Regions from separate parts of the Homo sapiens genome. Here region 1 is linked to region 2. Evidence: fine-mapped expression QTL. A gene starts in region 2. The other region holds a variant in brackets. All regions are shown on one strand. Distances are between the middles of the regions.

Region 1 (4,382 bases), 27 kb after region 2:
CTTATGCAGGTGTGACAGAAGGCTCACCTCTTGCCTTCTAGGTCTCTTCTCACAATGTGCCTTCAGCACCTGACCCTATACCCGCCAGTTATTTCTTGGTTATATTAGTAACACAACAAAGAGTAATATTAAGAGCTAATGATTAATAATGTTTATACTAATGATTGATAATGTCCATGATCATCTCTATATCTAATTTGTATTATAACTATTCTTTATTCTAACTATTTTCTTTATTATACTGCTACAGTTTGTGCCTTCAGTCTCTTGCCTCGGCACCTGGGTAATCCTTCACCCACAGATCACAAGGTCAGGAGATCGAGACCATCCTGGCTAACACAGTGAAACCCCGTCTCTACTAAAAAAAAAAATACAAAAAATTAGCTGGGCGTGGTGGCGGGTGCCTATAGTCCCAGCTACTCAGGAGGCTGAGGCAGGAGAATGGCATGAACCTGGGAGGCAGAGCTTGCAGTGAGCTGAGATCGCGTGGCTGTACTCCAGCCTGGGTGACAGAGCAAGACTCCGTCAAAAAAAAAAATCCATTCTCGGGCCAGGTGCGGTGGCTCATGCCTGTAATCCCAGCACTTTGGGAGGCCAAGATGGGCGGATCACAAGGTCAGGCGACCAAGATCATCCTGGCTAATAGGGTGAAACTCCGTTGAGAGATGAAGCCAGCTGCACTTCCTGGGTTGAGTGGGGACTTGGAGAACTTTTCTGTCTTACAAGAGGATTGTAAAATGCACCAATCAGCACTCTGTAGCTAGCTAGAGGTTTGTAAAATGCACCAATCAGTGCTCTGTAAAAATGCACCAATCAGCACTCTATAGCCAGCTAGAGGTTTGTAAAATGCACCAATCAGTGCTCTGTAAAAATGCACCAATCAGCACTCTGTCACTAGCCAGAGGTTTGTAAAATGCACCAATCAGTGCTCTGTAAAATGGACCAATCAGCACTCTGTAAAATGGACCAATCAGCAGGACATGGGCAGGGACAAACAAGGGAATAAAAGCTGGCCACCACTGCCTCCCCACCCCCAGCCGGCAGCGGCAACCCGCTTGGGTCCCCTTCCGCAGTGGGGAAGCTTTGTTCTTTCACACTTCACAATAAATCTTGCAGCTGCACACACTTTGGGTCCATGCCACATTTGAGCTGTAACACTCACCACAAAGGTCCGCAGCTTCATTCTTGAAGTCAGTGAGACCATGAACCCACCAGAAGGAACCAACTCCAGACACACTACACACCGTCTCTACTAAAAATACAAAAAATTAGTGGGGTGTGGTGGTGGGTGCCTGTAGTCCCAGCTACTCAGGAGGCTGAGGCAGGAGAATAGTGTGAACCCGGGAGGCGAAGCTTCCAGTGAGCCAAGATTGTGCCACTGCACTCCAGCCTGGGCGACAGAGTGAAACTCAAAAAAAAAAAAAAAAATTCCTCACAGGAAGTAATCAAGCAAGAACTCACTCATTACCTTGAGGGTGGCACCAAGCCATTCATGATCTGCCCCATGACCCAAACACCTCCCATCAGGCCCCACCTCGAACATTGGGGATCAAATGTTAACATCCAAACTCTAGCAGTTGGCATTCCATCCCATCTGCTCTATCACATTCCACCACCTCGTCTATCTACCTACCAGCCTATCAATCATCTGTCACCTATTGTCTATGGCCTATTATCTATCATCGATCACCTATTGTCTATAATCTATCATCTATTGTCTATCGCCTATTATCACCTATTATCCTCTATCATCTATCACCTATCGTCTATTATTTATCACCTACTGTTATCTATCATCTATCACCTATCGTCTACTATCACCTAATGTCTATTGTCTATTATCTATTATCTATCACCTATCGTCCACTATCTATCACCTACTATCTATTGTCTATTATCTATTATCTATCATCTATCACCTATCGTCTATTGTCTATCATCTATCAATAATCTGTCGTCTCTTTAGCTGCTACCTACTACCTTTTTTTCTGAGCCAATGAGTGAATGGGGCATCTGAGTGGGGAGTGGGGGGTGGGGCCTGAGGAGGGGTGAGCTCTGCCCCAGGGACGGGCATCTCCCATTCCCCTGGAGCCAGATGGGAGATGAGAAGGGCCCAGGGGCTCCTGGAGCTGCCGTAAGTCCCACCCTCCCCACCCGGCCTGGCAACTCCTTGCATTCAGAGGAAGTGACCTCTTTATCCGTATATACTTGAGTGTGGATTCCCTGCAAACAAGGGCGTCTTCTTACGGAACCTTCATGCAATGATCAAAATCAGGAATTTAGGTTTCCAGATCCACACAGCCCACGTGAGAGCCAACAGGATGGGGGTGGAAGGGCCTCTGGCTTCCCTGTGTGCGAGCATGGACGCACGTACAGAGAGGAGGGGGCATGGATTGTGTGTGTGAGAGTGCGTGTGTTAGTGTGAGTGTGTGAG[G/A]GTATGAGCACAGACGTACTGAGAGGAGGGAGTGTGGATGACGTGTGTGAGCGTGTGAACACGGACACACAGACAGGAGGGGGTGTGCATTGTGTGTTAGCATGTGTTAGTGTGAGCATGTGAGTATGTGAGCACGGACGCACAGAGAGGAGGGGGTGTGGATTGTGTGTGTGTGAGCGTATGAGTGTGTGAGTGTGAGCACAGATGCATATACAAAGAGAAGGGGTGTGGATTGTGTGTGTGTTAGTGTGAGCGTATGGACGCACATAGAGGAGGTGCATGGATTGTGTGTGTGAGCGTGTGAGTGTGAGCACAGATGCACAGAGAGGAGGGGCGTGGATTGTGTGAGTGTGAGCGTGTGTGAGCAGGGACGCACATACAGAGAGGAGGGGGAGTGGATCATCTGAGTGTGCACGTGTATGAGCATGAGAGGCAGAGAGGGGCAAGGGGGACAGTAGGAGTCAAGGAATGTGTCCACCGTGTTCCCAGCACTGGGCTTCAAATCTGGCTAATTCTTGGAGCTCACCCGTCACCTGCTCATCTACAGATGGGTAAACTGAGGCCCGCGGCAGAGGCCTTACCTTCGCGCAGGGTGGCTGGAACCGGGAGGATCTCTGGGGACCCCTGCCCTGCTCCCACACCTCCTCCCACAGGCTCCCAGCCGCCTGCCCCTGGCAATGCGAGGCCTGGATGCTGGGCCAGGACCACCACAACCGCCGACTCTGCACCGCTCCGCGCGGGGCCGCCCACATCCTCCAAGCGCGTCCCTCCACAGTGTCCGAACTGACACCCAGCGGAGAAGGGTGCTGACGCCTCCAGGAGGTGGCGCTGCAGCCAGACACGCCGACCTGGGCCGCGGGGAAAGGGGAGGACGGCGGTCGGTCGCCTGAGGTCTTCATCTCCGCACGCCCGGGGGTATCGACCGGCTGCCAGTGGAGCAGACACAGGCACAGCCCGTCCGTGTGAGGAGCGGGCGAAGGGGCCAGAGGATGAAGGGACCGGGGTTGGCGGCCCCGGCCTCCGTGTTTCCTGTGAAGGAGGACGGAGACCGGCACTGGCACCCACGGCTGCACTTCAGCTCGGAGTCGTCCATGCACAGCTGGGCCCTGGCCTCTCCACCTGTGCGTGTTCCCGGGGATGCGGCCATCTTTCCATCTCTGCGTCCGGGGGGAGGGGGGTGGGGGGTGTGGTCTTTCCATCTCTGTGTCTGGGGGGCAGGTGTAGTCTTTCCATCTCTGTGTCCTCGGGGGGTGGGGTGTGGTCTTTCCATCTCTGTGTCTGGGGGGGGGTGTGGTCTTTCCATCTCTGTGTCTGGGGGGGGGGGTGTGGTCTTTCCATCTCTGTGTCTGGGGGGGAGGTGTGGTCTTTCCATCTCTGTGTCTGGGGGGGGGGTGTGGTCTTTCCATCTCTGTGTCTGGGGGTGTGTGGTCTTTCCATCTCTGTGTCTGGGGGGGGTGTGTGGTCTTTCCATCTCTGTGTCTGGGGGTGTGTGGTCTTTCCATCTCTGTGTCTGGGGGGGGTGTGGTCTTTCCATCTCTGTGTCTGGGCGGGGTGTGTGGTCTTTCCATCTCTGTGTCTGGGGGGGGGTGTGGTCTTTCCATCTCTGTGTCTGGGGGGGGGTGTGGTCTTTCCATCTCTGTGTCTGGGGGGGGGGGTGTGGTCTTTCCATCTCTGTGTCTGGGGGGGAGGTGTGGTCTTTCCATCTCTGTGTCTGGGGGGGGGTGTGGTCTTTCCATCTCTGTGTCTGGGGGGGGTGTGGTCTTTCCATCTCTGTGTCTGGGGGGGGGGTGTGGTCTTTCCATCTCTGTGTCTGGGGGGGAGGTGTGGTCTTTCCATCTCTGTGTCTGGGGGGGGGGGGGTGTGTGGTCTTTCCATCTCTGTGTCTGGGGGTGTGTGGTCTTTCCATCTCTGTGTCTGGGCGGGGTGTGTGGTCTTTCCATCTCTGTGT
Region 2 (4,382 bases):
GGGGGTGTGCATATGTTGTCTGTGCATGTGTGTTTTGTGGGTGTGGACCATGTGCATGGTGGGTGTGCATGTATGCTGTGGGTGGTGTCGTGTTCGGGTGTGTGTGCACTGTGTGCTTCAGTGTGTGGTGCATGTGTATGTTGTGTGTGGTGCGGAGTGTGTGAGTTCGGGGGTGCGTGTGCTGTGTGTGTATGTTATGTGTGTTTGTGTGTGGTGGATGTGTGTGTATGTTGTGTGTGGTGTGGAGTGTGTGGGCTTGGGTGTGTGTGTGTGCTGTGTGTGCATGTATGTGTTGGATGTGTATGTATGTTGTGTGTGGGGTGGAGCGTAAGGGTTTGGGGGTGGGTGTGTGCTGTGTGCATGCGTGTGTGGTGTGTAGAGTGTGAGGGTTTGGGAGTGTGTCTGTGTGTGCGTGCGTGTGTGATGTGGTGCAGACTTGTCTCTTCAGGGCCCTGCGGGGGAGGCTTGCGTCTGTCAGGGTGGGGTGGTCTTGGGGTGGGGCGGGGCTCTGGGTCTGTACAGGGCTCAGCAGGGCTGCAGTCAAGGGTGTCTGGGGCAGGCGCAGTGGTTCACACCCATAATCCCAGCACTTTGGGAGGCTGAGGTGGGCAGATCACCTGAGGTCAGGAGTTTGAGACCAGCCTGGCCAACATGGCAAAACTCCGTCTCTACTAAAAATATGAAACTGCCTGGGCACGGTGACTCACGCCTGTAATCCCAGCACTTTGGGAGGCTGAGGCAACAGATCACTTGAGGTTAGGCATTCGAAACCAGCCTGGCCAATATGGTGAAAACTTGTCTCTACTAAAAATACAAAAAAAAAAAAAAAAAAATTAGCCAGGCGTGGTGGCAGGTGCCTGTAATCCCAGCTACTTGGGAGGCTGAGGCAGGAGAATCACTTGAACCTGGGAGGTGGAGGTTTCAATGAGCCAAGATGGCGCCACTGCAGTCCCTCCAGCCTGGGCGACAGAGCGAGACACTCTGTCTCAAAAAAAAAAAAACAAAACTTAGCTGGGGGTGGTGGCACACACCTGTAATCGCAGCTACTCCTGCTGAGGCAGAAGAATCAGTGTCTGGGACACCCTGCAGGCCTGGATTGCAGCTCCACAGGGACCTTTGCCCGTTCTCTGGGTGACTCAGCCATGGTGAGAGGTCAAAGGGCAGGGGGGATGCCCCGGACAGCCCGGGGCCGGGACCTGGTCTGGTCTGGTTCGGGGGCCCTGCTTCTCCTCAGGACCCCCAGCTGGTTCTGATGCTGGGCAGGGGCTCTTGTCTGGGCACTGGACCCCAATCCCACTGCCGTGCTGCCTGGGCCACCCCTGGTGCCCACCTCCCATGACACACAGCCTGGGGGCCTGGGATTCGGGTCACGGTAGCCCCTAGAAAGGTGGTCGGTGGTGACTGCCAAGCAGCCTGGCTGTGGGATCCCCGTGGGTCCCCTCTCCAGGCAAACGGCTCTGGGCACCAAAGGGTCCCCAAGCTACCCAGAAGCCACCTCTCTACAAGGGAGAAACACCAGGAGAGGAGGGGCAGGGAGGGCCCTGGCTTAGAGGAGGGGGAAGAGGAGGAGGGCACCTCCACAGGAGCGGGGAGAGGGGTCCCCCACACAAGGAGGGGGAAGACAGACACCCCCACAGAAGGAAGGCAGCCTCTGATTCCAGGGTCCAGCGGGAGCCCGGGTGCTTCCCTGAGCTCCAGATCACAGCTCCCAGGGTGACACCACCTCAGGGCAGCCCCTGGCTCCTGCGCCCCAGCCCCTCCCCTCCCCCAGCCCCCTTCCTTTTGGGCAGTCACAGGCCTGCTGGTTTCAGCCTGGCACCTCCCCTTTCCTTGTTCCGGGTGGGGGTCCCTGGGTGATTCTCCACCAGGCCAGGGGAACCAAGAGGCAAGTGCACTCGGGGCCACAGAGGAGGTAGAGCCTGGTGGCAGACCCCAGACCCTCAGAGGGCCCCTCCTTCTCCCTCCCACCCGCACACTCCCCTGAACCAGGCCCCCTGGAGCGCAGCACAGCTGGGCCCCCTCTGGCTAAGGGCCAGGCCTCCAGGTTTGGGTGGGGTGGGGATTGGGGCTCAGGGATGGTGGCATTACCTCCTCATGTCTGGGGTCCGCGTCTCTGTAGAGAGTGCTCAGGGAGCTGCAGTGGCTGATCCCAGTATCTGGCACCCGGCCCAGCTCCTCCTGCCCAGGCCCAGGCCAATTGGGGCTTTGTTGCTGCCGCTTGGGGCGTGTCAGGACAGAGGTCGGGGCCAGGGATCCCACCCTGGGTAGCTCAGGTGACTGGCTCTGCAGCCGCCCAGCCCACTCGGGCCTGGATCTGAGCGGGGACACCCAGCTGCCTGCTCAGGGCCTGCCACACGACTGAGGAAGAAATTTGCCTTTAAAAACATGCTTGTTGACCGGGCGCGGTGGCTCACACCTGTAATCCCAGCACTTTGGGAGGCTGAGGCAGGTGGATTGCCTGAAGTCAGGGGATTGAGACCAGCCTGGCCAACATAGTGAAACTCCGTCTCTACTAAAAATAAAAAAAATTAAGTGGGCGTGGTGGTGGGCTCCTGTCATTCCAGCTACTCAGGAGGCTGAGGCAGGAGAATTGCTTGAACCTGGGAGGCGGAGGTTGCAGTGAGCCGAGATTGCGCCACTGCAGTCCAGCCTGGGCAACAAAGAGCGAAACTCAGTCAAAAAACAAAACAAAACAAAACAACACCAAAAAAAAAAAACCTGCTTGTCATGAAGGCTGAACCGTGCTCACAACCAAGGCAACTTGGAAGGGTGTCGTGGGCAGCTGTCCCCAGCTCAGCTGAAGCACTTCCTTCCTCAGGTGGGCGTGACAAATCCCCCATCCAGCCCCAGCCCACCTGCCTGTCACACCTGCCCCTGCCCACCACCTGCGGCAGGGCGGGACCAGCTCAGCTCCACCACCGTGGAACCCTCACCCCCAACGCCACCACCTTCCCCACCCCTTCCAGGCGCTCCCTCCTGTCCTTCCTTACTGGGCACACCAGCCTGAGGAGTCTTGCACGCTGTGTGGCCAGGGCCCGCTCCACGGGGCCCAGTGCCCTCATTGCCTTTTTTATTTTATTTTTTTTGAGACAGTCTCACTCTGTCACCCAGGCTGGAGTGCAGTGGCGCGATCTCAGCTCACTGCAACCTCCGCCTCCTGGGTTCCAGTGATTCTCCCGCCTCAGCCTCCTGAGTAGATGGGACTACAGGTGTGCACCAACACGCCCAGCTAATTTTTGTATATTTAATAGAAACGAGGTTTCGCCATGTTGCCCAGGCTGGTCTCGAACTCCTGACCTAAGTGATCCGCCTGCCTCGGGCTCCCAAAGTGCTGGGATTACAGGCATGAGCCACTGCGCCCGGCCCTGACCACCTTCTTTAGCCGTCCCTGGCACACCCTGTAAAACAAAAACACAATTCCAATCTCCGCCTGACCCCACCCGACTGATGGACCCTCCCTAAGCCCAGGGCATTCCACGGTTAACCTGAAAACTAGTTCAGGCCATAATGGGAAGTGGGGGTCAGACAGGCCTCATTGTACCCGCCTCCTTTTGGAATTCAGGCAAAACTGACCAGCATTAACATTAAAACAGAGACCTTAAGACTAATAGAACAGACTCTGACAAGAAATAGTCCCTTTTATTGATTCTATCTGCATATACTTGGTCTCCACAACACCTTATCTTAACCCTGACTTTCCCTTCTATTGATTCTAGGTCTTTAGATAATAACTTAACTCTTTTGACCAATTGTCAATTGGAAAATTACTGAATCCACCAATGACCTGGACACCCGCCGCCTTTCTGGACCAAACCCATGTACATCTCCCACGTACTGAGTGATGTCTCGTGTCCCGAACATGTATCAAACCAGCTGCACCCCAACCCTCTCGGGCCACACATGTTCTCAGGATCTCCTGGGACGGCATCATGGGCCTTCCGTCACTCATATTTGGCTCAGAATCACTCTCCAAGTATTTTACAGGGTTTCACTCTTTTCCTCGACAACCCCCAGCGGGCAGCTACTGTTGGGGGCTCTGAGACCGCCGGCCTGCAGGGTATGGTTCTCCCGAAGCTGCATGTTCAGACACAATTGGAGGCCGTGCTTCCAAGGGGGTGGAGTGAGGGCCCTCAAGAAAGGCCAACTCAGGAATTTCCAACGTGACCCACAGCGTCTGAGCTATTGAGGAGGGGTCACCCGAAGAAGCCGCTGGGCTTGGGTGAGAACAGATGTTCCTCTGGCCTTCTTGCCTGGGGCTGCTCCTGAAACCACCTTTGCGAAAACCTGATAGTGAATCTGACCTAACCGACTCCACCTTGCTTCTAACCTCCAACCTGTCCTTGTTCATTCCTGGGTGTAGGTCACACCAACTTTGGGAGGAT

Which allele goes with the higher level. Alleles are on the strand shown, and positions count from the first base shown. SD is a standard deviation of normalised expression in the study named.
With allele A in place of G in region 1, the expression in testis of the gene that starts at base 2,141 in region 2 is higher (small effect, 0.34 SD a copy in GTEx).

Evidence for each region. PIP is the estimated chance that this variant, and not a neighbour inherited with it, causes the effect. A credible set is the group of variants that fine-mapping cannot tell apart.
Region 1: its variant is the best candidate, but not a certain one, in a credible set for the expression of PRAP1 in testis (GTEx, PIP 0.59).

What each region holds. Positions count from the first base shown.
Region 1 is chr10:133,317,721-133,322,102 of GRCh38, reverse strand. All of the region lies in intron 5 of ZNF511-PRAP1 (ZNF511-PRAP1 readthrough), which reads right to left. Among named protein-coding and RNA genes, the nearest start is that of ZNF511-PRAP1, 11 kb to the right of the region's middle. RefSeq lists an enhancer at 3,332-3,561. The variant G/A (reference allele first, on the strand shown) is at 2,435.
Region 2 is chr10:133,345,132-133,349,513 of GRCh38, reverse strand. PRAP1 (proline rich acidic protein 1) reads right to left here and starts at 2,141. Exons shown (of 5, transcript NM_145202.5): 1 at 2,089-2,141. The coding sequence starts at 2,096. All of the region lies in intron 5 of ZNF511-PRAP1 (ZNF511-PRAP1 readthrough), which reads right to left. RefSeq lists enhancers at 796-1,455, 1,456-2,115, 2,116-2,775.